4 separate regions of the Homo sapiens genome follow, and all the other regions are reported to be linked to region 4. The links are microRNA targets in miRTarBase. Many come from high-throughput screens and were not tested one by one. Region 4 holds a microRNA gene; each other region holds the end of a gene's coding sequence.

Region 1 (7,950 bases), not on the chromosome of region 4:
TAAAATTACATTTTGAATAAGGAGTTGCATGAGTACCACATAAGTTCTTTGCAGTGTTTTCCCCTCACTACTTTTCACTGCTTCTTTGTAAATAACCAAATAATTCTATAGACCTACATATGTTCCAGAGTACATGTTATTGAGCTAAGACACTCAATATTGAGCCACTGAGTAGCTGTTCAGCACTTGAAATGTGGCTAGTCCAAATTGAGATGTGCTGTGTGAAGTACACATTGGATTTTTGGATTTTGAAGACTTGGCTTGAAAAAAGAATGTAAAATATCTCATCTTTTATTATTGATTTCATGTTGAAATGATTAGTTTTTTCAGTAGCCGCATTACAAAAGTAAAAAGAAACAGGTAAAATTAACTTTAGAAATGTATTTTATTTAATCTACTGTAGCCAAAAATTTAAGTTCTGTATGTGGCTCACATTATATTTCTATTGGATTACACTGCTGTGTACAGTATGTTTAAAGAGAATGGTGACATGAATTGTGTTATGAGTAATGAGAAAAAATCATTTTAAACTCACCATTATCTGGCCAGGTAATACTAACTTTTTATTTAAAGAATTTACAGTGTTGCCATTCATTGAAGATACAGGTTATATGATTTTTACTATAGATTTTATATATGTTTTGGAGGATCTGTGAAGTAATTAACATTTTGATTACTGAAGCCAGTTATGTAGGCTTTACAAAGGTAGATTTTATTTGAAGCAATTAAGGATATGATTTTAATCTGTTTTAAAGTTTCCAGAACGTCCACTAACTAAAATATAAAGGCTCTGTAATCTATAAAACTCTACAGAGCTATACATCTTCATGTCCTTCCTTTTTATTTTTCTTTTTTCTACTAGCAGTTATAGAAACCAGATTCATTGCAGTGTAAGAAAACAAGACAGAGCATTTTCTTTTGGTAACTTGATTCTGTAATTAGAACTATGCTTTCAGTAGTATTCATTAATTAAAAGTATATTATGAATAAGAAATCGGTTAAGAAAATCATACCTGTGGTGTAATATTTTAGGAATATTTAGAAACATTTAGAAAATCAGAAGCTGCCTTTTTTGGAAAAGTTTTGCATTCCAGTGTAAGATTCCTGAATATAATCAATTCATTGATACCTATAACTTCAAACCTGGTCAAAGCAAACCTACTTATGATAGAGAATATTTAACTGTAATTTGTGACTTGTGCTGTTTGACCCATCAATTCCTACCTGACCCAAAGGCAATCTGAAATGAGACAGCTGCATCACTCATCTGTACCATGTTCAAAATTTCCTGTCAAATTAATGGAAAAACAGGTTATAAATGCAACTAATACATAATATGTCCTCAGTATGTCTTCACTGTGTGAAAGATTTAAAATTTAGCAACAGTAAAGGAACTTGAAGTTTACAACTCTCAGGGGTAAGATTTTAAAAATACATGTTAATGTTATTTACTGGCTTAAGATACTTGGAAGATCTATTCCAATAAGTTGCATCACCATTTTTGTTTTCAGTTTCAGAATGGAGTTTTAAATGAAACATATCCAGCTGAATTAAATAACATAAATAACACTCAGACTACCACACATCTTCAGCCACTTCATCATCCGTCAGAAGCCAGACCTTTTCCTGATTTGACATCCAGTGGATTCCTGTAATTCCAAGCCCAATTTTGACCCTGGTTTTTGGATTAAATTAGTTTGTGAAGGATTATGGAAAAATAAAACTGTCACTGTTGGACGTCAGCAAGTTCACATGGAGGCATTGATGCATGCTATTCACAATTATTCCAAACCAAATTTTAATTTTTGCTTTTAGAAAAGGGAGTTTAAAAATGGTATCAAAATTACATATACTACAGTCAAGATAGAAAGGGTGCTGCCACGGAGTGGTGAGGTACCGTCTACATTTCACATTATTCTGGGCACCACAAAATATACAAAACTTTATCAGGGAAACTAAGATTCTTTTAAATTAGAAAATATTCTCTATTTGAATTATTTCTGTCACAGTAAAAATAAAATACTTTGAGTTTTGAGCTACTGGATTCTTATTAGTTCCCCAAATACAAAGTTAGAGAACTAAACTAGTTTTTCCTATCATGTTAACCTCTGCTTTTATCTCAGATGTTAAAATAAATGGTTTGGTGCTTTTTATAAAAAGATAATCTCAGTGCTTTCCTCCTTCACTGTTTCATCTAAGTGCCTCACATTTTTTTCTACCTATAACACTCTAGGATGTATATTTTATATAAAGTATTCTTTTTCTTTTTTAAATTAATATCTTTCTGCACACAAATATTATTTGTGTTTCCTAAATCCAACCATTTTCATTAATTCAGGCATATTTTAACTCCACTGCTTACCTACTTTCTTCAGGTAAAGGGCAAATAATGATCGAAAAAATAATTATTTATTACATAATTTAGTTGTTTCTAGACTATAAATGTTGCTATGTGCCTTATGTTGAAAAAATTTAAAAGTAAAATGTCTTTCCAAATTATTTCTTAATTATTATAAAAATATTAAGACAATAGCACTTAAATTCCTCAACAGTGTTTTCAGAAGAAATAAATATACCACTCTTTACCTTTATTGATATCTCCATGATGATAGTTGAATGTTGCAATGTGAAAAATCTGCTGTTAACTGCAACCTTGTTTATTAAATTGCAAGAAGCTTTATTTCTAGCTTTTTAATTAAGCAAAGCACCCATTTCAATGTGTATAAATTGTCTTTAAAAACTGTTTTAGACCTATAATCCTTGATAATATATTGTGTTGACTTTATAAATTTCGCTTCTTAGAACAGTGGAAACTATGTGTTTTTCTCATATTTGAGGAGTGTTAAGATTGCAGATAGCAAGGTTTGGTGCAAAGTATTGTAATGAGTGAATTGAATGGTGCATTGTATAGATATAATGAACAAAATTATTTGTAAGATATTTGCAGTTTTTCATTTTAAAAAGTCCATACCTTATATATGCACTTAATTTGTTGGGGCTTTACATACTTTATCAATGTGTCTTTCTAAGAAATCAAGTAATGAATCCAACTGCTTAAAGTTGGTATTAATAAAAAGACAACCACATAGTTCGTTTACCTTCAAACTTTAGGTTTTTTTAATGATATACTGATCTTCATTACCAATAGGCAAATTAATCACCCTACCAACTTTACTGTCCTAACATGGTTTAAAAGAAAAAATGACACCATCTTTTATTCTTTTTTTTTTTTTTTTTTGAGAGAGAGTCTTACTCTGCCGCCCAAACTGGAGTGCAGTGGCACAATCTTGGCTCACTGCAACCTCTACCTCCTGGGTTCAAGTGATTCTCTTGCCTCAGCCTCCCGAGTTGCTGGGATTACAGGCATGTGCCACCATGCCCAGCTAATTTTTGTATTTTTAGTAGAAACGGGTTTCACCATGTTGGCCAGACTGGTCTCAAACTCCTGACCTCAGGTGAGCCTCCCACCTTGGCCTCCCAAAGTGCTGGGATTACAGGCGTGAGCCACTGCATTCAGCTCTTCTTTTCTTTAGATATGAGAGCTGAAGAGCTTAGACACATTTTGCATGTATTATTTGAAAATCTGATGGAATCCCAAACTGAGATGTATTAAAATACAATTTTTGGCCGGGTGCAGTGGCTCACGCCTGTAATCCCAGCACTTGGGGAGGGCGAGGAGGGTGGATCACGAGGTCAAGAGATGGAGACCATCCTGACCAACATGGTGAAACCCTGTCTCTACTAAAAATACAGAAATTAGCTGGGCATGGTGGCGTGAGCCTGTAGTCCTAGCTACTCAGGAGGCTGAGGCAGGAGAATAGCCTGAACCTGGGAATCGGAGGTTGCAGAGCCAAGATCGCCCCACTGCACTCCAGCCTGGCAATAGACCGAGACTCCGTCTCCAAAAAAAAAAAAAATACAATTTTTATTTCTTTTACTTTTTTTAGTAAGTTAATGTATATAAAAATGGCTTCGGACAAAATATCTCTGAGTTCTGTGTATTTTCAGTCAAAACTTTAAACCTGTAGAATCAATTTAAGTGTTGGAAAAAATTTGTCTGAAACATTTCATAATTTGTTTCCAGCATGAGGTATCTAAGGATTTAGACCAGAGGTCTAGATTAATACTCTATTTTTACATTTAAACCTTTTATTATAAGTCTTACATAAACCATTTTTGTTACTCTCTTCCACATGTTACTGGATAAATTGTTTAGTGGAAAATAGGCTTTTTAATCATGAATATGATGACAATCAGTTATACAGTTATAAAATTAAAAGTTTGAAAAGCAATATTGTATATTTTTATCTATATAAAATAACTAAAATGTATCTAAGAATAATAAAATCACGTTAAACCAAATACACGTTTGTCTGTATTGTTAAGTGCCAAACAAAGGATACTTAGTGCACTGCTACATTGTGGGATTTATTTCTAGATGATGTGCACATCTAAGGATATGGATGTGTCTAATTTAGTCTTTTCCTGTACCAGGTTTTTCTTACAATACCTGAAGACTTACCAGTATTCTAGTGTATTATGAAGCTTTCAACATTACTATGCACAAACTAGTGTTTTTCGATGTTACTAAATTTTAGGTAAATGCTTTCATGGCTTTTTTCTTCAAAATGTTACTGCTTACATATATCATGCATAGATTTTTGCTTAAAGTATGATTTATAATATCCTCATTATCAAAGTTGTATACAATAATATATAATAAAATAACAAATATGAATAATATGTTTTAATGTAAATTCTTTCTGGTCCACGTAAAGGAAATTATTTATTCTGTAGTATTATAACTATGTTAGATGAGGGCAATCTACAATACTTAGGGATATGTTAAGTCAGTAATTCATAAACTTCTTATACAATTTTGCCCCCCAATGTCTGACCTTTATCTGGATATAAAAAACACTCTCAGTAGCTTCATAAATTAAAATGCTTCTGAAATGAACTTTTTTAAAGCCCTGTGTTATCAGTGTAGTAGTGTGTCTTAGATTAAAATCCAAAATCCTATTTTAATATTTTAAGAATATTTCTGAAGAAATTCGAAATAACCCTTGTTAGCTGTATTTTGTGCTTAGTTTAGAAAAACCATTGCCCAAACTTAGTATTTCTGTTTAATAAGTATAAATGATACAGAAGCCTTTGGCCTTAAATTCATAACTGTTGAACATTCATGGAAAACCCTGCAATTAGAATTGATTGAAGAAGAATTCCTGAGAAAATGTTTTCATTCTTGTGACAGTTATTTTTCTATTAGTTTTATATTTGTTCTTTACAATTAGGCATTTTTCTCAACTAGCATATCATAAGTTAGCATCATACTTAATTCTGAACATTTTAGACTAATCCTGAGTCTTTAAGAATTACATAAAATATTTAGTTTTAACTATTTGATCTGAAAAAAATCAAGTAAAAATCCTGATAACCTGAGTGCATCTCTGCTTGCGCTTAGGTGATTTCTGTCACCATGAATGACTCTAGCTTGTCCAATTTCACCAGCTCTACCAAACACCGACCCAGGGATGTTGGCCACTGACAGGGCTGGATGACATCTCTCATTTCTTTCACTGTCTGCAGATGACCTTGCTTCCGTTTTTACTAATAAAATCAAGGATATCATCCTAAGTTTGTACCTTCACCTCAGCAATTCCTCTATCCTTGGACTTACCTCCAGTATGTGAGGAGGAGAGTTTCCTGAACTCCAGGGTTAGCCCCCGTCCTCTCTCGTTCTCATGCACACAGCTTCGACACCTGCTTTCTGAGAGGCTCTCCTTCTCTGTAGGATTTCCTGTGAATAGGTCCTCCTCCATCCTGGAAAAAAATTACTTGAACCTGCACTTTCTTCTCTATTAAATTACTTCTTTACCTTCTTCCTTTGTAACAACAGTTTTGATCTCCTGAGATCTGGTTTTGTTTTCCATCCTTCCATTATATTGCAGTGTTGCGGTTCACTAAACTTCTTACCATAGGCTCATTTTCTATGGCCCTGCAACCAAACTGATTACACTTTCAATGAACTTTTTTCTTCCCTTCCATGACATTAGTTGTCCTGTAAGCTCCTATTATCCCTTTTCTTTCCTTTGTTAACCACTCTTTCCTCCTCCCACCTGGCAGCAGGCTTAGTTTTGACCATTTGTGGCTCTTTCTGTACATACTGTCTAAGAAGAAGTGATTCAATGCCTTACCTCTGATTGACATTTGTGAAGCAATTCTTTCCCTGAGAGAGCAGCATAGCATAGCCAAACTAAACACACAGACTCTGGAGTCAGACTACTAGGTATAAATCCTGGCTTTGCCACAAATAAGATGTCATTGAGAAGGTTTCTTACTTTCTCTTAGCCTAAGATGCCTTTTCTGTAAACTAAGGCTAACAGTACCTGCCTCACTGGATTGCTGGAGGATTCAGTGATTTATATAAAATCACTTAGCTGCCAGTAGCCAAAACTGGAATAATTTGAGCAACTAAATAAGTGATGATAGCATTAGATTACAGCACAAAGAATAAAGTAAATATCCATGAATCCATACTAATATAAATAAAATGGTTGAAAAATAAATGGGGGAGAAGGAGCACATCTTTCCTATAGAAGAATCCCAAATAATATTGGTAGCTACTATGCCCTCTGATGCATGAGCTTAGTTCTCCTCCCCTGGAAGGATGAGTTAGACTTAATGACTTGCTTTCAAGGAATAGAGTACAGACAGAGAAGAAAATAACTTTACATTGTTGAAATCTGGCAAGCACTACTTTAACCAAGTAATCAAGGTTAACATCACCAGTGAAAAGTCATGTTGATATAACATGTATTATCTGATATGATACTTTGAGAAGTGTACATCTCAAAGCTCCCTGATTTTCTTAAAAACACATAGTCTAATTATGACAAAACATCAAACGCAAATTCAGGGACATTCCACAAAATTTCTGAGAGGATTTTTTAAAGTGTCACTGTCACAGAAAGAGACTGAATAATTATCACAGAGCAGAGGAGGCTAAGGAGGCATGATGACTGAACTTAATGTGATATCTCCGATTGCATCCTTCATAGAAAAAGGGCATTACTGAGAATCTGCAGAACTCTAAGTCTAGTTAATAGTACCACATCATTGTTAATTTTTTGGTTTTGACCAATGTACCATGGCTATACTACGTTAGAGGTACCTGGCTGAAGAGAGTAAAGGAACTCTATATCCTTTTGACTTTTCTGTAAATCTAAAATTATTCCACAGTAGATTTTACTTTTTAATAAAAGTACAGTTTTTATTGCCACATAGCAAGTATCTTTATGTCTCTCATTACTATTTTCCTGTATCTTCACAACCTCCTCTTAGTTGGAGGTAAAGCTATACATTGACATCAGTCCCCATTAACTACTGATTTGACGAATATCTTTTTTTTTTTAATTTAAGTTCTGGGGTACATGTACAGAATGTGCAGGTTTGTTACATAGGTATACACGTGCCATGGTGGTGTGCTGCGCCCATCAACCCGTGATCTACATTAGATATTTCTCCTAATGGTATCCCTCCCCTAGCCCCCCACTGGTGTGTGATGTTCCCCTCCCTGTGTCCATGTGTTCTCATTGTTCAACTCCCACTTATGAGTGAGAACATGCGGTGTTTAGTTTTCTGTTCTTGTGTTAGTCTGCTGAGAATGATGGTTTCCAGCTTCATCCATGTCCCTGCAAAGGACAGGAACTCATCCTTTTTTATGGCTGCATAGTATTCCATGCTGCCAGTTTTCCCAACACCATTTATTAAGTAGGGAATCCTTTCCCCATTGCTTATTTTTGTCAGGTTTGTCAAAGATTGGATGGTTGTAGATGTGTGGTGTTACTTCTGAGGCCTCTGTTCTGTTCCATTGGTGTATATATCTGTTTTGGTACCAGTACCATGCTGTTTTGGTGACTGTAGCCTTGTAGTATACCACATTCTCTT
Region 2 (7,950 bases), not on the chromosome of region 4:
TTGGCCAGCCCTCTTAGTCCTCGATCCTGCAAATCTGTGTTCCTGTGGTCTCAGCTCCCAAACTGTGGCCTATGGAGGTCAGTACCTCCAATCCCCCTCCACCTCTGCGTGGAAGTCCTTGCCACCTCTTCCAGAAAGCTTTCAGCCTTTTCCTGACAAATGGATACAACAGCTCCCTCATCTGAGCCCTCAGACCTATACTGTGGTATACACTCCCTAGGGAGCAAGGTGGATTTCCTTAGGGTCCTAGCTAGGGTTTTAACCTACTGGGGTGGACAGTGAACATTTGTCAAGTGGAAGGTCAAAAATGAAGGGTCAGCCCACTTCCTTTGTACATAAAACACCTGCACTTGTTAACGGCCCCATAGGCTCTTGGCTGGACTGCAAGTGACTTGCACTGCTTGGCCATAGACACTGGCTCCAGACCACAGAAAAGCCAGTTCAGTCTGAGCCCCTGATGGGAGGATCTCAGCACAAGGGCTGGCACCCAGGATGGTGGTAACGACCTTCATTAGAGACCACCAAAGTCAGGTGAAGCTATGTAAGCCTCTCAGCAGTCTGCCTGAACCCGGTGGTTGGGCACAAGTATAGGTAAGGTCAGGTCCTAGCTGTCACCAGCTGTACACCTTGGGCAGTGACTAGGGTGAACATTTGTCCTTTCTTGGACAACCAGCATCAATTCTTCATCTTAAGAGTGCCCCAAATTTCCTTTGAGAAACCACTCCTGTTTCAGTCTTGTTGTCACTGGCATATGGTAACTGGTTTGGGGATGGCACAGAATCCCATCAAGGCCAATGAAACAGGATGCTTATTGGGGCTTCTGTGGTGAGTCCTCTCCTGAGAGCCCAGAAAGGGTTGCTTCCTTCTGGCTGGCAATGTGTGAGAATGGCAGGTCTGGAATCCAGGCAGCATTCTGCTCACTCCCACACAAAGGGGAAATCTACTTTGTAGGGCCTGTGGATGAAGTCACAACTACACAAGACAGAGCAGAGAGAAATAGGAATGCTGAGGCCAGCCATGTTGGAGCCACTGGATCAAGCCTAACCCAAAGACTGCTCTACATCTGGCATTTTCCAGTTACATGCAATTTCAGTGTTTAAAGCCAGTTTGATTTTGGCTGTCTGACTCTTGCATCCAAGATGATTAACTGATAGAATTATGCCACTTACCTCAAAGACATGCAAATATGATATTTAACTTAAAAGTACAAAGCTTATAGGTGCTGATGGGAGGGGTTTTTACTGTCTGCCCTACGCTCACCATCATCCTGGATGCTAAAGATGTCTGGAGACTCCAATTCTTCCCAATTCGAGGCTCTCTCCAACCGTTTCCCAATCAGACAGGTTCACAACTCCCAAACACATCATTCAGAAGTTTTTAATAAACAACTTCATTATAAAAACCTTTTTTTGAAAATGTAATTCTGTAAAACATTGAAAAATCTACTTTAACAAAGATATGCCCTGTGCATTTTCTAATGGCACTTATACTTTACAATTAAAAACCTTGTTTTATATAAAGCCAAAAATACTCCAAGAGGTTATTCACTGTGTTTACAAAGTGCTAGAAGATTTCTGTCTTGTACTTTTCTCTTTAAATAATCTGGAGTTACAAAAGAGTGGCTCCAAAGCCTTGACCGCTGGTAGGGAGGGAGAAGCATGAGAAGTGGTGTCTCAGGAGTTCTAGTGCCAAAGGTGGAGAGGTGCAAGTGGGAACAATCAGCTAAGGAAGTCAGCTGACACACAAAGAAATCGGACTGGAATTTTTCCAAACCCCTCTATGGAGGCACTAGGTTATCATGGTGAACACCCTTTTCCCTCGCCATAGACCCTACTCTCCAGAGGTGAAGGTCATGGCCAATTCCTTCCACAGCAGGTTCAGAGTTCCAGGAGAGGCCAGGGTGGGATCCCAGAGGAATCTGGACTTTTCTGGCCAACACCTGCCTAAGGCAAAGTTTCTTATTACATAAATATCCTTGTTAAAAAGCAAAATATTGATCCTGTACAATATAACCTGTTAAAAAAATCGTGCTTACAAACAGCTCCTAGATAAGAGGGCAGGTGGAGAGAGGACGGAGAAAACAGCTACCAAAAAGGGAGGGGGGAGTTTAAAGGACTACTAGGGAAAGTTTTAGGGCAGTGGGAGAATTCCAACTTAGGACAATATCTACGAGCAAAAAAGTAATCACACCTGCTTCCCGGATTTTCAATTAAGAAAATGCCATTTGTAAAAGGTTGGGCGGTGGGCTGGAGGGCGGGGGTTGCAGGGAACCTCATTGGCGCTCCTTTCCCTGCCTCCCACCTCAAGATGATGCAGAGATCCTTTGAGCTGACACCTGGGCATGTCATCCCCTTACCCCCAGGACTGTACTCAGCCCTGACCAGCTACTGTGTAGGGTGGGAGGGGGACAGCTCATTGCTGGCAGAGGCTGGAGGTGGCAGGGAAAGGGGACATCACTTTTTTTCCTGGTCCCTCATTGGTCTTTGTCATATGCCATGGCTCCTGTCCTGGGCAGATGCCCCTCAGGTTCTCATGGCCTCAGTAAGCATACTGAAGTGAGTTCGGGTACTGAGTGCAGGATAAAGCTATTCTTATCCTTTGAACAACCAGGCCACTAAGGCTTTTTTTTTCTTTCCCCCCGACCCCCCAGATTTTAGGAAGGGAGGTTTAAGAAATGACTGGCTAGCTATGGTCCAAAAAAAAAAAGGTGAAGGCAGATATTATTCCTCTGTACCAGCAAAGTTCACAGTGATAGGAAAATTCCTTGTGGGTGCTGAGGACACTGAGAGGAGGAAAGGAAAGACAGGATAGATGGGAGGACACAGGAGTGGGGAAGGCAAGGAGAAAAGACAGGAGGTGGGGGCAAGGCCCCGGTTACAAAGGGTTTAAACAGTTGCTTTGCCAGTCCTATGACTTTTCCAGCATCACTTACGGGGAGAGAGAATTCGAGGGAGGGACAGGAAAGGGCAGGCAGAGAGGAAAGGACTCCTCTAACAGCCCGGGACTTTGTATTCTGCAGCCAGAGGCCCAGTGGCCTCTGTAAACTGAGAGTGTAGGGAAGGTGGCAGTTAAGGTGAGAAGGGTTGCTGAGTCTAGTGATGAAAACCAGATACAACAAAGAGGATGGCAACAGCGAGTCCCAACTGGATTCTCACATACCATCACCTATAATACAAGTCCCAATAACATGCACAGCATGCAGGAGGTGGCTGCGTACCAAGGTAGACACTTTTTAAAATAAACCTTAATTAGTCCCTGGGACTCACTGAAACTAATTTTTAGAAGCAAATCATCTAGTCTGATTCTAACCTTGCCAGACATTTTAATATCTGGTGTTTTTAAAAAGGTATCCCAAGCTACCCTGCCTAAATCAAAACACACTTACTCCAAATTGCTTCTAATCAAGAGCTAGGGAGCTAAATTTTAAGGCTTTTACCTCAAACAAGGAGTACTGGCTTAGGCTGAAGCAGAAAGCTGAGTCCTGGACCTGCTCAGTTCCTGATGACAAACCAAGTGAACCTAGACAGAAGGTGGGTGAGGGAGGACTGGTAGGAGGCTGAGGCAATTCCTTGGTAGTTTGTCCTGAAACCCTACTGGAGAAGTCAGCATGAGGCACCTACTGAGAGAAGTGCCCAGAAACTGCTGACTGCATCTGTTAAGAGTTAACAGTAAAGAGGTAGAAGTGTGTTTCTGAATCAGAGTGGAAGCGTCTCAAGGGTCCCACAGTGGAGGTCCCTGAGCTACCTCCCTTCCGTGAGTGGGAAGAGTGAAGCCCATGAAGAACTGAGATGAAGCAAGGATGGGGTTCCTGGGCTCCAGGCAAGGGCTGTGCTCTCTGCAGCAGGGAGCCCCACGAGTCAGAAGAAAAGAACTAATCATTTGTTGCAAGAAACCTTGCCGGATACTAGCGGAAAACTGGAGGCGGGGGTGGGGGCACAGGAAAGTGGAAGTGATTTGATGGAGAGCAGAGAAGCCTATGCACAGTGGCCGAGTCCACTGTAAAGTGGAAGAGACAGAAGGGACATTGTGGATAAGGAAAATTTTGGTTTGGGACACAACAATGTACCCATAGATTAGGACTTAGCTATCTACCCATTCCTAACCTTCTGCAAACTCTTCTTCCAACAATTCCACAACTTCCCGGAAAAGGGACAGGTGGGAGGAAGACCAATGAGGGGCTCAGACTTCCTCCTTTGCTATCCACACCAACCCAGACTCTGCTTCCAAGACTAATAACAACAGCTCATGATGTTCAAGGTGGGGACTAGGGGATGGGGAGGTGACGGACGTGGGCATGCCTTTCATTTCTTCCCCTCTCCAGTTCAAGAGAAGGATGAGGGGGTCATAATGTACTTGGAGAAAAACAGAATTGCAGACCTGTGAGAAAACTGCTCCAATCCTCTTGCCTGTCTTCTGTGGATACCGCCGAGGCAGGCAGGAACAAATGCAGTCATGGAAGATGGCAGAGACTGAAGCAGTCCAAAGTCAGTTTATTTCCCCACGGGGGAAAAATGTGACCTCAAATGAAGAGAAGTCAGCAAGCCCCGACTCCACCTTGTAAACAGGACTCCAGTTAACACCAGGTACCAAATGGTTCAGGCTGGTGCCAACTGGAATGGACTGATGGGAATGGATTCACGGTGTGTAAACAGTGTTCACTGCAATCACTCTAAGGCTAACAGCTTGGCAAGGGAGGTGAAATGGTGTGTCTGAGGTGACTGTGTAAACGGTACCGTTGCTGGACAACACTGACTGAAAACGGAGGTGCTGGTACAGGAGGAATGGGTGGGCGAGAAATAAAGGCCTTCTCTCCTGCCCATTGGTTGGAAGCAGGCAATGGAGCCAAGTGACCTTCTACAGCAGGGCCTGACCAACTGACTGCTGTGGGGTCTGCAGGTTGGGACCAGAAGGTGGGCTTCTTGGGCAATTTCTCTAGAGGTCATCCAAGGTGAAACCCTCTGTGTCTCCAAGAGGCCTCCCCATTCTCCAAAGAGAAGGAGGTTCTGGCGCTTTGGAGAGGAAGAGGGCCAAGTGTGGCTCCCGATTCAGGTCAAAAAAATAAAAGTAAATAATACCTGAAGTCCTACGGTATGAGATCTTTTCACGGGGTTGGGGCTCAAGGCTCCTTCTGGAATCGATCCTAGAGCCTGAACCCCCAAACCAAGTGCTCCTGTATACAGACACTGGAATTTTTTTTTTTGAACCCAGCTCTGAAAGCTCAGCTGCCTTCATGGGGGACACAGACGGGGTGGGTACTAAGGCTCCATAACAGAGCCAAAAACTGAGCTGAGGGCCTCTGTGGGGGCTACTGGAATGCTTGATGGAAACGAGGCAGGGTGGTGCTACTCAGGCCAGACGTGAAGACAGGAGGCAAGGAGTGCAGAGGCCCAAAGTTCAGTGGTCCCCCAGCTCCTGGGGAATCTTGAGGCTGAGCTTGCAAAGTGGTAAGCAGGGGCTGTGCCTCAGCCTGGGAGTAGCCCATGACCAGGCCTCCTGTGGCCCCAGGTGGGTTACACGGGGGCAGGTTGAGTGGAAGAAAGCCCAGTAGGTGGGAGAAGTCCACATTAGCAGCGCAGAGGGCCTCAGAGAGGTTGGCGGGGCTCTTGGCAAGCAGTGCTTCATCTAGGAGGGCCGCAGCTGCCGCCGGCTGAGGTGAGGCGGGCTGGGGTTCAGCGGATGAGAGAGACAGGCTTCCAGGAAGCTCCGCCAGAAAACTATCCACCTCCACTTTGGGCAATTTGTCGGGCAAGTATGAGGTAGATCCAAGCTGGTATTTTGGAGGGAGCTGAGCTGGGGAAGAGATAGGTGAGGATTCCAGAGGGTAGCTCATACCCATGGGCAGCGTGTTGTGCACCAGGGAGTGTGGCACGCCCGTGCTGGGCATGGTAGGGATGTGGGCACCATACATGCCCATGGGCAACATGCCAGGGAAGGCCTTGGTCCCCATTACGTCCCGAGAGGCCATGCACAGCACAGGGCTCAGCTCTTCCTTCACACTGACTGTGGAGCTGCAGCTGAGTAGGCCTAACATGTCCACGGGCTCTGTCTTGATCTTGAGCAGCTCCTGCGAGTGGCTCTTCTTGACATGACGCGTCAGGTGGTCCTTACGGCCAAACCGCTGGGCACAGTACTGGCACAGGAAGTCCTTACGGCCTGTGTGCACCACTAGGTGCCGCCGTACATCCTTACGAGTATAGAACCGCCGGTCGCAGTGGTCACAGGGGTGCTTCTTCTCCTTGGCACCGCCTGCTACCCGGCGTGAGTGGGCCTTCAGGTGCTCTAGCAGGGCCTGGGTACTCTCAAAGGTCTGCAGGCACACCTTGCAGCTGAGGTCACCGCTGCTGGCAGCATGCATGGCCAGGTGGCGCCGGTAGCCCAGCTTCGTATTGTAATTCTTACCGCACTCAGAGCAGTGGAGGGCCTCTTTGTTAGGATCATGGGTCTGCAGATGGTTCCGCAGATGGTCCTTGCGGTGAAACATCTTATCACAGTACATACACTGGTGGGGTTTCTGGGCTGAGTGGGTGGCCATGTGCCTGGGGGTAGAGACAGGGGATAGGGGAGAAAGCAGAAAGAGGGGAGATCACAAGGGATGACTGGACAACCAAAGGTGTCCATTAACAGGAAACTAGATATAAAAACCATGGTAAAGGCTTGCAATGCAATACCAAACCAGTTATATTCTACAGATATCCTTGCCTATCTGCAAAATAATGTGTACCGACATTCTTTGCAGCATTGCTTGTAGTAGCAAAAAAAATCAGAAACAATCTGAACGTCCAATCTATCAATAGGGAACTGGTTACATAAATTATGATAAGTCCATAAAATGACTCAACTTTTCAAAAATGAGGCTTTTTGTGTACTTACAGGGAACATGCTCCTAAGAGACAGGAAGTAGAAAAAAAGCAAGGAGGCAGAATAGTGGATGTAGACTAGGACTCTATGTGAAAAGGGGAAAAATATATGTATGTTTGCTTGTATATGGCTAAAATATTTCTGGAAGGACATACAAGAAACTGATACCAGTGGCTGCCTATGCGAAAAAGAACCGAACAGCTTATAGATGGGTGTCATGGAGAATTTTCATCGTATAAGTTTTGGTACTTTTTGAATTTTGAATTACGTGAAAGTATTTCATTTTTTAAACATTACATTTAAATAATTTTAAATGATACAATAAAGAGAAAATAAAATATACCTAAACGTGCAGTCTGGGCACAGTGGTGCATGCCTGTAATCACAGCACTATGGGAGGGTGAGGCAGGAGGATCATTTGAGCCCAGGAGTTTCAGACCAACCTGAACAACATAGCGAGACCTTGTCTCTACAAAATCTTAACCATTAGATGGGCATGGCAGCATGCACCTGTAGTCCTAGCTACTCAAGAGGCTAAGGCAGGATTACTTGAGCCCAGGAATTTGAAGTTGCAGTGAGCTGTGATCGCACCACTGCACTCCATCCTGGGTGACAGAGCAAGACTCCGTCTCTAAATAAATAAATAAACTTCCTTATCTAGAACAAATTTCCAAGATATACAGGGCTAAGTCAAAAAAGGAAGTTCAATACAGTACATGTGATACAATCTGTTTTGAAAATAAAAAAGAAAGAGAATATACATGTTTGAATGTCTTAGGAAGGATACACAAAAACCAACCCACCAGCTGCCTTTGGGGAGAGGAATAGTGACTTCGAGTGTGAGGATCATTCATTCTTCACTGCATGCCAGTATGTACCACTTGAATTGCTTGTCATATAAACCAGTAACACTTTAAGAAATGTTTTAATGGTATGGCACTTCAGTGTCCCTTGGTTTACCTGATCCTATATGGTTGAAAAGTGGCTCAGAATCCAGGAACTGCAATTCACAGCTCCAGAGCATATTCAGAATCAACTCAGCACCCACTGTTTGCCAGGCTCTGCATAAGCTGTGTCATTAACCTTGATCTC
Region 3 (7,950 bases), not on the chromosome of region 4:
ACTATTTCCTTCTTCAGGTTCAAAAACGCATTCTCCCACTTTCTCTTCAAAAAGTTTTATAGCTTTGACTTTCACATTTAAGTCTAAAATATTTAGAATGCAGGGATCCAATTTCATTTTCTTCTAAATGGACCATCAATTTTTTCTCTTCCTCACTGAGGAGCAAACTTCTGTTATATACCAAGTTTCCTTATACCCACAAGATTGTTTCTGGATTCCCTATTCTGTTCTAATGGTTTATCAATTGCTGTCTTAATATCATGTCTTAAGCACTATAGCTTTATAATAAGTTTTGTTATCTGATAATGCAAATTTTCTCCTGTTTTTGTTTTTAAATGTCTCTAAGCAAGTATTGACTTTTGCTCTTATTCTAGACACAGTTGTAGCATAGTATGAAACCTCTATTGGTGTATTTGAGGAAAGAGAGCATTTTCCTTGGATTTTCCCTCTGCCTCCTGTGGTAGAGTTGCAAAGGAGGAAGTAAAAGCTGAAAAATAACAGAAGTAGGGTCAGTGGCCAGACTGACTGACGCCACTGACCAGGCCTGAATGTAAAAGATTAACCCCCACCCTAACCGCATGTGCGGTTAAGCTCTGGTCGATTCCAGACATTGTATGGAGAAGCATTGTGAAACTTTCTGTTCTGTTCTGCTAGCCCTCACCACTGATGCATATAGCCCTCAGTCAGGTAGCCCACGCTTGCATAATCAATCATGACCCTTTCACGTGGACCCCTTAAAGTTGTAAGCCCTTAAAAAGGCCAGGAACTTTTTCTTCAGGGAGTTCTGTTCTTGAGACGCAAGTCTGCTGATGCTTCCGGCCGAATAAAGCCTCTTACTTCCTAAATCCGGTGTCTGAGAGGTTTTGTCTGCGACCCATCCTACTACATATTTATTTTATCTTTAAAATATTTTTAATTTAAAAAATTTGAGGGATAGACAGGATCTTGCTCTGTAGCCCAAGCTGGAGTACAGTGACACAATCATATCTCACTCTAGTCTCAAACTCCTGGGCACAAGTGATCCTCCTGCCTCAGCCTCTCAAAGTGCTGGGATTACAGGTGTGAGCTACTTCACTTGGCCTCTACTGGTATTTTCAATACAATTGCTAACTGGCACCTTTATAATATGGAGCCTTTCAGATATGTCTGTAGCAGGACAAGCTGCAGACAAAACCCCTCAGACACCGAGTTGTAGAAGGAAAGGCTTTATTCGGCTGGGAGCTTCAGCAAGACTCACATCTCCAACCACCAAGCTCCCGGAGTGAGGAATTCCTGTCCCTTTCAAGGGCTCACAGCTCTAAGGGGGTGCGTGTGAGAGGGTCATGATCGATTGAGCAAGCAGAGGGTACGTGACTGGGGGCTGCCTGCACCGGTAATTAGAACAGAACAGAACAGCACAGGGATTTTCACAGTGCTTTTCTATGCAATTTCTGTAATCTATAGATAGCATAACCGATTAGGTCAGGGGTTGATCTTTAACTACCAGGCCCAGGGCGTGGCACTGGGCTGTCTGCTTGTGGATTTCATTTCTGCCTTTTAGTTTTTACTTCTTTCTTTGGAGGCAGAAATTGGGCATAGGACAATATGAGGGGTGGTCTCCTCCCTTACATCCACTTTCTTGAATCCCTACTCCCATTTATTCAGTTCACACCATTATCATAAATCTATTCCATTACAAAATTCTTCCTAGTGTCCTGCTGTCCTTCAGCATTCCAATCTATTTTTTACATTGTACCTGGAAAAGCTTTGCTAAAATGTAACTCAAGTCATCTTCTACTTATCAATCTTTTATTGACTTCCCAGTGCCCCCAAGATTATGGCTAAACTCCTCAACTTGGTTCATCTTTATGAACCAGCTTCTGTTCTGGCCATCTTTTTCCAACCTACATCATCTTGCATTTCTTTGTGCTCCTGTCACTCTGAGTTCAGTTTTGGTTCCTCAAATCAACTGAAAGAAGGTTTTTCTGCTTTCAAGTGGAAGAAGAAAATGGCAATTTGAAAAATTTGCTCTCCCAAAGAGATTTCAGCCACAAATTCATTTGCATTTAAATCCTAAAATAAAGCACATCATTATTTCAGCATAAACTCTTAAAAGTCATGCAATCCAGCCGGGCATGGTGGCTCACGCCTGTAACCCCAACACTTTGGGAGGCTGAGGCGGGCAGATCACCAGGTCAGGAGTTCGAGACCAACCTGGCCAACATGGTGAAGCCCTGTCTTTACTAAAAATACAAAAATTAGCCTGTTTGGTGGCGCATGCCTGTAGTCCCAGCTACTCTAGAGGCTGAGGCAAGAGAATCACTTGAACCCGGGAGATGGAGGTTGCAGTGAGCCGAGAACATGCCATTGCACTCCAGCCTGGGCAACAGAGTGAGATTCCATCTCAAAAAAAAAAAAAAGAAAAAAAAAGAAGTCATGCAATCCATAACAACCTCAGGCTTTTCACCTTTATATAATTTTAATGAGCCGAAGGTTTGATTATTAAAACAACTATAACTCCTATTACTCTCTCAATCATAACAAATTGATCATAAATTCAATTTAACACACATATGTCAGAATACAAAGCACACAGTATGTTCTTTGAACCAGTAAATAAATGTCTTATTCTTTATCATAATAATTTCTAATTGTATAATGTTTGAAACTTTCACAATCTTTCTATCTTGGTGAACACTGGCAAAGACATTCTGGGAGTTATTCAGGAGAGATTCACTGCAGAAAGTACACAGCCATATATCAGAGAAGGGACACTTTCTAACAGGGATCCTTTTAGAACCTGACTCAAGATTCTTTTGTCTTTGAAATATCTAAGCAGCCAGCCAAACCAGAACAGCCAAACTCCAAAAGCCCAGAGTTTGACTGCACCACTGAGATCACTCAAGTAATCTCTACCCTCCTTTCTCTGCCATAAAAGCCCCACCCTGGGTTTCCCCTCACTTTGGTTCTTTCTCAAGTTTCTCACCAGCAGAGCTGAAGGAGAAGTGGTCTTTCATCCAGGTGGCTGGGGTAATATAGAGGAATCTGGGTATAAGGTTGCAAAGGCCATCAGGCCCCTTAGCTGCAATTCCCTCTTGTATCCTGCTTCCTCAAACCAGGGCTAGACCAAAGACTTCAAAATATGTGCACGCGCGCACACATACGGGTACCAAGGGTAAATTTGTAATTTGCCCTCTAAGCCCCAGAATTCAAGCTTTCTCATTCTTTCATGGGGACCATGTGAGAATTCTCCAAGATATTTGTGGGGGCCTTACCCACAAATATATAAATAGATAGATAATGGCTTTTACCTCCTTCATCTGTCCATAGCTATAAATGCCCACAGGCTTTGTTGGAGAGTTCTCCAGGCTGAAGGACAGTTTTCCTGAATGTGACACTAGCCGAGAGGTCAGAATTAATTACATTCCTTGGTGTCACCTGACCCACAGGAAACTTGCGTATCTTTGCCACCCCAAATTGTGAGACTACAGACTGAACTACTGCAAGTCTAATCGCCTCCCCTCCCCACCCCACCTTCCCTTTTATTTTCCTGATAAAGTAGGCAGAAAGCAGATGAACAAGTTTGCTGCCTAAATTAACACCCAATCTGGAAATAAAATACAAGTCTTTCCTTCCTGAAGGCATCTTCAATCACTACCAGTGATTCCTTTGGCAGAAAGCACAATTTTGGGAGCTAGTTCTACGACTTCTTAATCATCCTTCAAGTTAGGTCTGGGTGTGTGCATGGAGGCAGTGGGTGGTGGGGTTTTCTGATTCTAGTCATTGTCAGATTTCTTTAAAAAGTGAAGTACTTAGCGTTCCCTTGACCCATCTTTGACTCCTCCCTAGTTGCTGTTCTTTGAGTAATAGGAAAAGCCCAACACAACCTCCTGTTATACATAAATACAATTTTTTAAAACCAGCACATATATACATGATAGATGGAAATAAACAGTACTGCATACAGTAGTTGTAAGTATACACAAATAAAGATACCTTTGCATTGTATTCATATACCACGTTTATAGACATGTGAACTTGCTGCAAAACAAGCAGAAAATAGGAAGAGAAAATCAGGTTATCTACAGAATCACTAGTCATCAAATTCACGTTAAGAATAGGCAGTAAGATTTCATGATCTCAATAAAAATCTCAATAAAGCTGTTGCCCTAAAAAAATTTACAGTGAGACAATAAAACAGGGAGGTAAGGGAGGAAAGACAAATATTCCTATGTCTTAAAAAAAAGGTAAAGCAAGTTAGCCTCCTGGCACTGAATCATTTGCAGAAAAAAATAAAAATAGTTGTTCAAGTATATGAGAAGGCTTTGTACCAATCTCAGACATCCAATACTTTATATTTCTTAGAGAGAAAGTGAAGGCTTTGTACCAATCTCAAACATCTAATACTTTATATTTCTTAGAGAGAAAGTAAGGGAATTTAGTTCTCTTTTAATATGTACTCTTAATTCCCTCTTAATTTCTTCCAGACTACTTTAAGTTTTTATAGAAATAAATATAAAATCACCACATTGCCTTTTGAAATTAAAAATGGGAAACACAATACTTTATTCAATCAATAAAACAAACTGTAAAACATTTTAAAATCCCTTAGTTCTAGAATATGGTCAGATAAGAAAGAGGGCATATAATTTGTCAGTGGGAGAAATTAAACCACTGTCTTCTAAATCTATCCACCATGATAAGGTTTTTTGTTTTTGAAAAGCTGTAAGATTAAAACAAACACACAATAAAACATAATCCAATTAAGGTTTCAGGACTAAATATGAACCTTTCCTCTACTTTCAAAGGTTTGGAGGATCCTTGAAACTTCCATTACCAAAAGGTTAAATTATTAGTAACATTCTGAATCACTAAATAGCCTTCCTTTCCTTAACTTTGAATATCACATTTATTTGAAACGAAGCACTTACTGTAAATTGCTACCCTGTCTAGGAAAAGATATTTTCTTCATGGATTCTGTCATGTTTTGATGCTAAAGAACCTGTTTTATCGGACTAATTTGCTTTCGATTATTCTAAATGAGTTCACAGACACAAGAGCAGATATTTGTGGCATTTTTCTGAATCATCTCCAAACAAAATAGAGGTTGTTAAATCTAATTGAGGTGCCAATAATTTCTGACTTTGTCCCAGAGCACCTTAAAGGCAATCAGTTCTAGCAAAATCTAGAAACCACCTAACATAAACTTGTCAGTATGGCCCAATCGCCCATCCTTATGAAATCAGAATTTATCGGCCGGGCGCAGCAGGTCACGCCTGTAATCCCAGCACTTTGAGAGGCCGAGGTGGGAGGGTCATCTGATGTCAGGAGTTCAAGATGAGCCTGGCCAACATGGTGAAACCCCATCTCTACTATAAATACAAAAATTAGCCAGGCATGGTGGTGGGTGCCTGTAATCTCAGTTACTCGGAAGACTGAGGCAAGAGAATCACTTGAACCCAGGAGGTACAGGTTGCAGTGAGCAGAGATTGCACCAATGCACTCCAGCCTGGGCAACAGAGCAAGACCCTGCCTCAAAAATAAATAAGTAAATAAATTTATCAATATGAATCCAAGGCCATAACACCATTACAAAATAAGTGTTCCCTTCCATCTTTGTCTAAACATGCACCTACAAAACAAACAACATCAACTTCCAACCTAACCACTCTGGATCAGTTTAACAAACTTCATACCCTACTGACCTGTCCCCTGCATTTGAATTCTAAGCCTACCCCTTTGAATTCACTTCCTTTCACTGACCTTGTCTATTTCAAAGAAACCATCTCCCATCCTGAAGTTGTCCTACAATCTTAACATGCTAATGAAATACAAGAAGAAGACACAAAATATAAGATCAAATGTTTTAATATTAGAATCAACAGATTTAAAATTATATTTTAATAAATACGACAAATATGAGGAAAAATAGAATTATAAAAACTGTACACATTCTTAATTGAAAATATACATATAGGCAATTTATATAGAAAATTGCTGTTTCACTCATAACTTCTCATACTTCCATAACTGTAACTAGACAGAAAGTTTAAAGTGAAATAGCAAATTCCTCACACTCAATGCTTATATGCATACTTTGAACCAATACCTTACATATCAATATTTAAAGCTTTTAATGTGATAAGTGAGCTTGCTTCTTGCTTGTTAATTTGTCTAATCTAGGTTGGATTGATGACAATGCTACCCTCAGGGGATAATGTATATTTAAACTGTTTCTATGTTTTGTTTTAATAACACTTAAAGTAGAGAATCCGGTCTCACAGAGGTATGTTGAGGGGAAAAGAAGCAGCAATTTTAAAGCAATCTCAGCAAGCTCAGGATAGTCATTTTTAGCTTTTATCCAAAATGAAGGAAGTGATGCTGTATTTTCAAAACTGATTTTCAATCCTTCGTCGGTAGCCAGCTTCAACAACTTATCCTGTAGAGTTACAGTTAAATTTAAGTTATCTTTTGATGAAAGAAATGGATTTTGGATCCACAAATTTCCTATGCGTGGATCTTCTTTTGATGGAAAATAAAATTCAAAACATTCTAACAAATTTGTAAGATGTTCACTGATAACTTTTCGCAGATGTGCAATATCAAGATCATTACCTACTTCATTGATAATTGTTGTTAAATTATGAAACATGTCATAACAATCTGTAGAAATTCTGTTTTTCCAAGCTTCTAACTTCTGTTTTTGTCCTTCAACTTTATCTGCCATTGAAAAATAAGTTGCATTCTTCCCTTGCATAGAAGCATTAAGATCATTAAAAATACTGAAGATATCAGACAAATAAGCAAGTCTGGCTGTCCAATTCACATCTTTAAAAAGTTGGGACCACATGGGTTTCTTGCCTTGCAGAAACACTAAGAGTTCATTTCGTATTTCAAACATTCTTGACAGAACTTTTCCCCGTGATAACCACCGTATCTCAGCATGCAGTAACAGTTGCTTATGATCAGCTTCCATATTATCACATAATAAAGAGAATAATCTTGAATTCAATGAATTAGATTTTATATAATTCACAATTTTTACTATATCATTAAGTACACTATTTAGTTCAGCTGATATTTTTTTCATGGCAAGACTTTCTCGATGAATGAAGCAATGTGTTGTTTTACATTCTGGCGCAAGTTCCTTAATCTGGGTTACCACTTCAGAATGTTTTCCTGTCATTGAAGCTGCACCATCAGAACATACTCCTACACAAAATTTAAATTCCAAACCACATTTGTTAACAATATAATTCTTTACAGCTTCATACAGTTCTGAGCTAGTTGTGTTTGTAGGCAAAGAGGCTGAAAAAAAGAACTCTTCCTTTATATCATCATCATGTTCAAACCTCACATAGACTAAAAGAATTATCATGTTAGCAATATCTCTGCATTCATCAAGTTGCAATGAAAAATACTTTGCTAGTTTTATTTGTTCTATGAGTTGATCTTCCATATCATTAGCCAGTTCCTGAATACGTCGAGCTATGGTGTCATTGGAAAGTGGTACCTGAGCTACCTTCTTTGCTGCAGATTCACCCAACATTTCCAAGCAAACTTCTTTGATGCAGTCTTTCACTAGTGTCTCAGCAATTGTGTATGGTGTTTTAGACTTGGCAACCGGAAGTGCTACTTTATATGAAGCCCGCAAAGCACTAATGTTTATATGAGAAACGTTGAACACCTGCTTTGGTTGGCTTTTCAATTCACTACTCTTTCTTTCAAAGAATTCTTTTGGTTGTGAACTTATTTCTTTATGTTTTGAATATAAATGTCGCTTAAGTTTTGATGGTTTCATTGCTTCATTAGCCAGTACATCTCCACAAATAATACACTGTGGTTTTAGTACTTCACCATCAATTACAGCTACAAAACCAAACTCAATATATGAAGGATCATATTTCCGAGTGAAACTAGCATGAACTCTTTTGGTTTTCCCTTCTTCAGGATAACTTCTATTGTTAACAT
Region 4 (7,950 bases):
CCGCCTCCTCCTCTCTGCATGCGCGTCAGAGCCCGTGCCAAGAACAAGCAGCAGTCCTGAACTCGAGGTCCATAAAAATCAGTCGACTGAATGACACCATCAAATCTTTGGTAAGAGTCCAGTGGGGTCCCCTGATTCCACGCTGCCAATCCTGGGCTCCGGTTTCCCCTTGGGGCCCTGAAGAAGGGGGCTGGGGGCCCCTGGTGCCAAGGGCAGATAGGGAGCTGGGGCGCCCAGGCCTCACCTGGCGGGACCCCAGAGCATGCAGCATGGCTCTTCTTTTGCTGCCCTCTTTGCCGACTCTCTCCTCTCCAGGCACCCCTACTCGAGTCCTTGCTACACACGCCCTGGGGTTGTTGCCTCTTGGGGAAGTGCTGGCCTGACTGGTTGTCAGGGGCCCCGTATTTCTGCCATGACTCAGTCCCTAATTTGCTCTTTGATTCTGGACAAGCCACCTCTCCTTTTTGGGCTCGTGTTTCCAGAGGAGGTAGTGAGTATCAAAGGTCTCTGTTAGCTCTGAGAGTCTGAGATTTAAAGGCCCCCTAGAATGGAAAGCTCAGGGCCAAGGGCTCTTGTCTGTTCTTTTCCATCCTATATCGGCTGTGAAGAACCGTCCCTGGCCCGTACGTGCTCAGTAAATGTCTATTGAATGAACACACTTTTCTAAATCACAAGCTGGCAGAAGGGGGAGCCTTTCTCAAACTCCATCTCTAGAGGTTTATGTTACTGTCCTCTCAAGAGATTCCTGATTCAGACTTTGAGTTGTGAGGCTGTGGCTGAAAACCAACAAAGACCCAAATCCTCTGTCCTTGGGAGCTTGGGAACAGTTCCTGTTCCCATTGGGTCTGAGAACTTTGCCTTTAAAATCCATTCCTGGCCCCTGCCTGCCGCTTCCTGTCTGGGGAATAGAGTTGAGGGGGCCACCCTCCATCACTTTAATTTGACTCTCCCCACAGAAACAACAGAAGAAACAAGTGGAACATCAGCTGGAAGAAGTAACGTGATTTCTTTGTTTGCTGGCGACATGACTGCTGGGTTTGGGGGACACTCAGATGTAGAGGCCCCAGTCTCGTCTCACCCACTCCCAGCCTGGGGAAGGAGGCTCACCCCTCAGATTCCACCCCATCCCCACAGGGTCCCTGATAACCGGGTCCCATGGGTGGGCCTGTCCTGGGGCATTGGTGGCATTCTGGGGGCATATCTCTTGCTGTGCCTTCTCTGCCTCCCCCTGGTAAGAGCTCTGTCTTCCTCTTCCTATAGGAAAAGAAAGCAAACAATGAGAAACAGAAAGCTGAAAGGGAGCTAGAGGTGAGTGGAGGGTGTGAAGTTTCCTCCTGTCCTCCGGAGAATGTTTCTTTCCTTCTATTTCAGCACTTGCTTGGCTTTTCTCCCAAAGGGTCAAATCCAGAGATTGAACACAGAGAAAAAGAAACTAAATACGGACCTGTATCACATGAAACATTCTCTCAGATACTTTGAAGGTGGGAATCTGGGCACCCTGTCATCCTTCAACCTGGCACTTTGACAGGTCTGTAAGGCGGAGTCCTTTGAGCCCCATGTCAACTCTGTCATTACAGAAGAGTCCAAGGATCTGGCCGGCCGCCTGCAACGTTCATCGCAGCGTATAGGAGAGTTAGAGTGGTCTCTCTGTGCTGTCGCCGCCACACAGAAGAAGAAGCCGGATGGGGTGAGTCCAGTCACCTGCCCTGTCCCCTGGGAGCCCGGCTTCACAGATGGAGGAGTGAGCCTAAAGGTCCCTTCTGCAGGATGGAGTGTCCTGCCCAGAAGGCAGCATGGCCATTTCTCACTGCTTTTGTGTATGGTTGTTAGAGGCAGCCTGAGGCTGAGTCAGCTGCTGTGGGTGAGTCGGGGGGCGCGGTGGGGAGCGAGCACTGGATGCAGAGCTTGGAGGCCAAGTGCCTGCCCTGCCCTTACCTGGCTGTGGTCTTGGCCAAGTCCTAGGTGGGGTGTGGGGTATTGGGTACTTGTACTGTGAAGGTACAGAAGGGTACCTTTAGTATGTTCCCATTTCTGTAGAGAGAGGAAACGTGTGTGTGTGTGTGTGTGTGTGTACATAGTATGATAATATACATAAAACATGTCTGCAAGTGTTCGTAAACAACTCAGGAGAGAGCAGCAGGGTGGCTGGGAGATACTTCCCTTTGATACCTTCCGAGTTTTGGACTATGTGAATGTATCATCTTTTCAAAAAGTGAACAAAAGATTAATTTTCCCCTTCCTAACCGTGCCCCCACCCCCAGCAGAAAAATGGGCTTAGAGAATCTGATAGACCTGGGTGTTCAAATCCTAGCTCTGCCTAAGTGATCTTAGGCAAGCACTTAACCTCAAACACTCCATGTTTTTTCATCTACCCAAGAGAGGGCATCATAGTAACTGTCTCCTCTGGTGGTTGCGAGGATTAAATGGGATTGCTAGCAAGGTACCTGCTGAAGCACTCCATAAAGGTTCAAACAGTGGGAGTAATAACAATAGCAATATTATCTGATCTCTCTCCTTGTCCCTTCCAACTTCACTGAGTTTTTTTCAAAACCAGACCACGGGCTTGGAAATGCCTTGATCTTTACTGACCGAGTTGTATATTGAGCCTAGCCCTAGCCCTTTTAAGGGGCACTGTGTGGAATGGCCCAGGCTCCCCAGATCGAAACTTCTCACTCTTCACCATCCAGTTCTCGAGCCGCAGTAAAGCACTTCTCAAGCGGCAGTTAGAGCAGTCCATACGGGAGCAGATACTGCTGAAAGGACACGTGACACAGGTGAGGTTTTGCAGAGGGAGGGATGTGGAAGGAAGATGACCCCAGGTGGCCAGGAGCAGGTGAGGACCAGTGACGGCCCTTCCTAACTTGTGTGGCCATTCTTGCAGTTGAAGGAGTCGCTTAAAGAAGTCCAGCTGGAGAGAGATCAATATGCTGAACAAATAAAAGGAGAGAGGGCCCAGTGGCAGCAGAGGATGAGGAAAATGTCGCAGGAGGTGAGATCTGACCCTTCAGCCTCCCGCCCCACCCCCCCCCCACCAACAACTTAAGATAGGTCACTGGATCTTTCTGGGCCTCTTTAAAATGGGAATAGTGCAGCCAGAGGTGGTCCTGGGTCTGGGCTTTGTGGAGGTGGGGGCAGAGAGGGAGATGGGAGCCTGTCCAGCCACCAGCCCCTCTCTCCAGGGCCCTTTCCCCCTGTGCTTTGGGCAGGTTTGCACATTGAAGGAGGAGAAGAAGCATGATACGCATCGGGTAGAGGAGCTGGAGAGGAGCTTGTCCAGACTCAAAAACCAGATGGGTAAGATGGGGCTGGCATGACCTGGGAGCAGGACTGGCATCAGAGGGCTGTGGGGGTGGCTTAGAGTGCCCCAGGGAGGTGGGTGGATGGCAGGGCTTTGAGGCAGAGGGAAAGAGGTCTGTGCCAGGAGACAAGTCTTGTCATCTCCCTGAGCCTCAGTGTCCCCATGAGCAAAGAGGGCCCGTTGTCAGCCACCCGCAGTGCTCTCTATCTGAAAGTGGTTTGGAAGACTGGCTACCATCCGGGTGCGAGGGATCGTTAGCAGTGAAGCCAAGTTTGGGAGCCTGAGAGGAGCTGTGCGCCAACAGGAGGGTGTTTTGTTGTTTTTTCTGTTTTGATTTTTGTTTTGAGAATCCAGAGGCCCTTATGATCTGCTTCCTTTCTCAGCTGAGCCACTGCCCCCGGATGCCCCAGCAGTGTCCTCTGAGGTGGAGCTGCAAGACCTGAGGAAGGAGCTGGAGAGAGTGGCAGGAGAGCTCCAGGCTCAGGTGGAAAACAATCAGTGCATCAGTCTCCTGAACCGTGGGCAAAAGGAGAGGCTTCGCGAGCAGGAGGAGAGGCTTCAGGAGCAGCAGGAGAGGCTTCGGGAACGGGAGAAGAGGCTTCAGCAGCTGGCCGAGCCACAGAGCGACTTGGAGGAGCTGGTGGGTTGCCCCACCTGGGGAGCCTGCCCTCCTCCCTAGCCCTCCAGGCCTTTGTTTCCCCACCTGTAAAATGGGGCAGTGTAGCCCTCACATGAAATATTACTTCCAAAGGCACCTGTGAGCCAGAGCTTTGCTCTGGTGGCTGTGGGAGAGAGGAGAGTATTTTTCTAACTTGGCTCCACCCTTCCCGGTGCCATGGGAGGCAGACACCAAGTTCTGGGGTCTCCAGCTGCAGTGGGTGGCTGCTGATTGCTTCTCTCTGTCCAGAAGCACGAGAACAAGAGCGCACTGCAGTTGGAGCAGCAAGTAAAGGAGCTGCAGGAGAAGCTGGGCCAGGTGATGGAGACGCTCACCTCGGCCGAGAAGGAGCCAGAGGCAGCAGTCCCAGCCTCAGGGACTGGGGGCGAGTCTGTGAGTGGGGAGACCCTCCGGGCCCTGCAGGAAGTCATGGAGAAGCTGGAGGGGAGTGAGTCCTAGCATGGGCCAAGAAGGGCAGGGCTGGGGCAGGTCGCTGCTGAGATGTGACCCCATTATTTTGGCTCCAGAGCGGCCTTATGGACCTCCTGGAGGAGAAGGCGGACCTGAGGGAGCATGTGGAGAAACTGGAACTTGGATTCATCCAGTACCGGAGAGAGAGATGCCATCAGTGAGTGGGAGGCCAGGGCACGGCAGGGGGAGCTGCAGGGCTATGGGAGGGGCCCCAGCGTCTGAGCCCTGTCCTCCCGCAGGAAAGTACATCGCCTTCTAACAGAGCCAGGGGACAGTGCCAAAGATGCGTCACCGGGAGGAGGCCATCATCAGGCTGGCCCAGGACAAGGAGGAGAGGAAGGTAGGGTGTGCAACATCCCTGTGGGGGTGGGGGTGGGGTGGGGGTGTGGGTGGGGTGGGCATGAGGGTGGGCGCCAGCAGCGGCCTGACAGCTGAGCACCCGTCCCTTCAGGTGAAGCTGCTGGAGCTGCAGGAGATGGTGTTGCGGCTTGTGGCAGCTACAGCGAGGGGCACGGCAAATTCCTGGCCGCTGCCCGGAACCCTGCTGCTGAACCCAGTCCAGGAGCCCCAGCCCCCCAGGAGCTCGGGGCTGCCGACAAGCATGGTGGTGAGTAGAGCCCCCAGGCGGGGTGAGCAGGCAGGAGCGGGGGGCGGCTAGCACTCCACTCAGATCCCCGCCTCTCTCTCTCCAAAGATCTTTGTGAGGCGAGCCTCACCAACAGCGTGGAGCCTGCACAAGGAGAAGCCAGGGAGGGTTCTTCCCAGGACAACCCTACTGCACAGCCAGTCCTGCAGCTCCTTGGTGAGATGCAGGACCACCAGGAGCACCCAGGCTTGGGCAGCAACTGCTGTGTGCCATGCTTTTGCTGGGCTTGGCTGCCGAGAAGAAGGAGATAAACACCACCATCATCAAAGAGCTGCTCAAGAAATTTTTAAAAACGAAACAAAGTTATGGGGTTAATCTCCTACACAATTCATTTACTTCATTTGAATGTTAGAGCTACTCATGATTATTTGTGTTTCTAATTTATAGTTTAAGTTTATTTGTAAAAAGTTAAAAGAGAGTGGGTCTCTGTGCCTCTCACTGATGTTCACTCTGGCATCCTTTAGCATTTTTCTTTTTTCATTTCATAATTGTAGGTCATTAGCATGCATATCGAGTTTGCCCTTACGTGGTGGGAGTTCAAACACACAAAGACCCACTCTTTGCACAAAACTGTTCTCGCTGGTTTGGAATAGGCTCCCGTGCTTTTTTAATGTTATTGCAGCATGGATGTTCATTACAGAATTCAGATAAAATTTGCTAATGTTCTGCTATGATGTTTGATCTCATCTTAATCACAGTGAGCTCTTCCATAGCTCAATATGCGGTTTGCCCTCAAGTGTGCACTGTTTATTACTTTGTAATATGCCACTATGAGTACTGACACTTAGAGCTGTTTAAAGGCCGAGAACTGGAAACAGCCTTTCCTCCATTTTCTGTGTATTGGTGATGGGAGTGATAACCTTTTGGGGGAGCTTTCTAAATCTCGCAGAAGAGGAAAGTGGCCTGCTCTGGCAGGTATGTGCAGGATACAGTGTGTTTCATCTGTTCCGGTGCCAAGAATGAGCACTGTACTGTGGCAGTTCCCTTTGGATTTGTATGTGCTCTGGGCTCATGAAGATATTGCATCGTGAGCTGCAGCAGTTGCACTCTTTTTCAGTGACCTAAAAATGGCTTATTTCCGAGGAATGAAAGGCTGCCATCGTTGGCTGTGGATGTGGAAAACCTTTCCTAGCTTAGAGCATTTGTATCTACAATACATTTTAAAGTCAGAGTTCGTGTTCCCTGTTTTAATCACATGACTACCTGTCCCAGTACACGAAAGGGCGCTGGTTGGCATTCTTCTTAATGTATTTAGTAAAGATCATAAGACATCCTTTAAGAGTTTAAATGTCTCTGAAACAGGCATACAGGCTCTAGTCAAGAATGAATTAGAGTGAAGGAAAGCTGTGTGACACCTGGCATTCCTCTCTGTTCATGGAGCTTCTTTGAGGCTTGAAGTTTGATTTTACTATCTAGACCTCTCTGGCTAATACCTATTCTTCAACCACCTCGGTTACTCTGACATAGGAATTTACTTCTTTTCCTTGAGTGGAAAACACTTTAGAAAATAATAACAAACATTATTATAAACTAATATATGTGAGAGTACTTAGTTGAAACAAAAAGGAATTTTAGTAGACAGTATTATATTATCTTTGAAAATCAAGGAGAAGTTTATGCAACTGAAAATGTTTACACACTGTGCTGCAATCTACTGTTTGTGAATGTCAATGTATTATCAGGAAACATGTCTATACGATCGCAGAGTTGTATTTCCTCACAAACTTCTTTACGAAGAGTGAAATATGTTTTTGTACCTCTCAGTTTCAGTCAGGGACATATTTTGTGCAATATTTCTGTGATTGTGCCTATGCGTGATGAGTGAATGCATTTCAATCATACATTGCCTAAATCATAACTTGATGATGCTTGGGAAAGAATCAACAGTTAAAACTTCATGAAGTTCTAATGTCTGTGTTCCAAAACACATCACATTATTAGGTTGTAGGGAGATATGTATGTGTGCTCCCTGGGGTGGGGAGTTTTCTAGTTACTAGACCATCTCCATTTTTAGCACTTGGCAGCCTCATGATCCTTTTATAAATAGGAGATTAACAGGAGAGCAGCAATACGATTTTGCCAATGGAATAACAGATTTGCCGGCATTCACTGAAAGAGGGCAGATATTGGGTCCTTGTGACTTCAACTGACTCTTCCGAATTGTATGAATTTATCAATGTATTAGATAAACCCAGTTTCAGAATAATAAAGAAAAAATATTAGACCAAATAATGTGGCTAATAGTGGTATGATTTCTAGCCCGTGGGTTTAAAACTGTATCCTAAAGAGTCATTTTAAAATAATATAAATATTTAAAAGTGTAACTGCTATCTTTATGTTCTGAAATAAGTTAAAACATTTTAAAATATGAATACTGTAGTTTAAAAGAAAGAAATGGTGGGAAGGAAAAGTAGAGAAAGAAATGCCAATTCCAGTCCAAAGCTTTGTTTGCCAAGTTTTCTTAGAATGAATTTTACCAATGTATGGGTTCTTGTTAACAGAATGTGTAACAGAAATACTGAAAGACTTTTGCCTAAAGTGGCATTATTGACTGCTGGTGTGATGCTACTGTAATGTGATAAATTATTAAATTGTTGCAAAGTGCTGTTTTTGCCTTAAAATTTTATTTTGCGCATCTTGAAAATTATAGTATTAAAGGTATTGATACTGTGCAAATACTGGGCATGCTTGGCATGAGATAATCTGTTTCATTTTCACAAAATTGTAGTATAACTATGCAAGTGTTTATTAAAAGAACACAAAATAAAAAAGGTATGGGATTAAAAAAGTTATGGGGTGAAAAAGTTATTGGATAAAAAATGTAAAACTGTTGTGGCAAAAAAGTAGAAAAACGTTTTCTGAAAAGTTACCAAAACA

The links. Region 4 holds the annotated microRNA hsa-miR-1233-5p (AGUGGGAGGCCAGGGCACGGCA, at 4,588-4,609, shown strand). A microRNA usually pairs through its seed, bases 2 to 8, with sites in the 3' UTR of a target mRNA and lowers its output. Matches are read on the target gene's strand: a 7mer-m8 pairs with bases 2 to 8, a 7mer-A1 pairs with bases 2 to 7 and ends in A, and an 8mer does both.
Region 1: the mRNA of AHR is a reported target of hsa-miR-1233-5p. Seed matches in the 3' UTR shown: 7mer-m8 at 3,462-3,468.
Region 2: miRTarBase lists PLAGL2 as a target of hsa-miR-1233-5p. Seed matches in the 3' UTR shown: 7mer-m8 at 4,156-4,162, 7mer-m8 at 2,397-2,403 and 7mer-m8 at 2,139-2,145.
Region 3: the mRNA of SCAND3 is a reported target of hsa-miR-1233-5p. Seed matches in the 3' UTR shown: 7mer-m8 at 5,285-5,291.

The regions. Positions count from the first base shown.
Region 1 is chr7:17,341,410-17,349,359 of GRCh38, forward strand. It overlaps AHR (aryl hydrocarbon receptor), which reads left to right. Exons shown (of 11, transcript NM_001621.5): 11 at 1,512-4,738. The coding sequence ends at 1,655. Among named protein-coding and RNA genes, the nearest start is that of LINC02888, 30 kb to the right of the region's middle.
Region 2 is chr20:32,191,147-32,199,096 of GRCh38, forward strand. It overlaps PLAGL2 (PLAG1 like zinc finger 2), which reads right to left. Exons shown (of 3, transcript NM_002657.3): 3 at 1,358-6,536. The coding sequence ends at 5,306. Among named protein-coding and RNA genes, the nearest start is that of PLAGL2, 13 kb to the right of the region's middle. RefSeq lists a silencer at 176-373 and an enhancer at 5,157-5,919.
Region 3 is chr6:28,565,799-28,573,748 of GRCh38, forward strand. It overlaps SCAND3 (SCAN domain containing 3), which reads right to left. Exons shown (of 4, transcript NM_052923.2): 4 at 4,737-7,950. The coding sequence ends at 6,113. Among named protein-coding and RNA genes, the nearest start is that of SCAND3, 18 kb to the right of the region's middle.
Region 4 is chr15:34,525,006-34,532,955 of GRCh38, reverse strand. It overlaps MIR1233-2 (microRNA 1233-2), which reads left to right and starts at 4,585; the gene lies at 4,585-4,666. GOLGA8B (golgin A8 family member B) reads left to right here. Exons shown (of 24, transcript NM_001023567.5): 11 at 1-110; 12 at 957-995; 13 at 1,261-1,308; 14 at 1,397-1,481; 15 at 1,578-1,687; 16 at 2,688-2,774; 17 at 2,882-2,989; 18 at 3,207-3,294; 19 at 3,682-3,938; 20 at 4,206-4,349; 21 at 4,484-4,584; 22 at 4,667-4,767; 23 at 4,879-5,034; 24 at 5,122-7,861. The coding sequence ends at 5,324.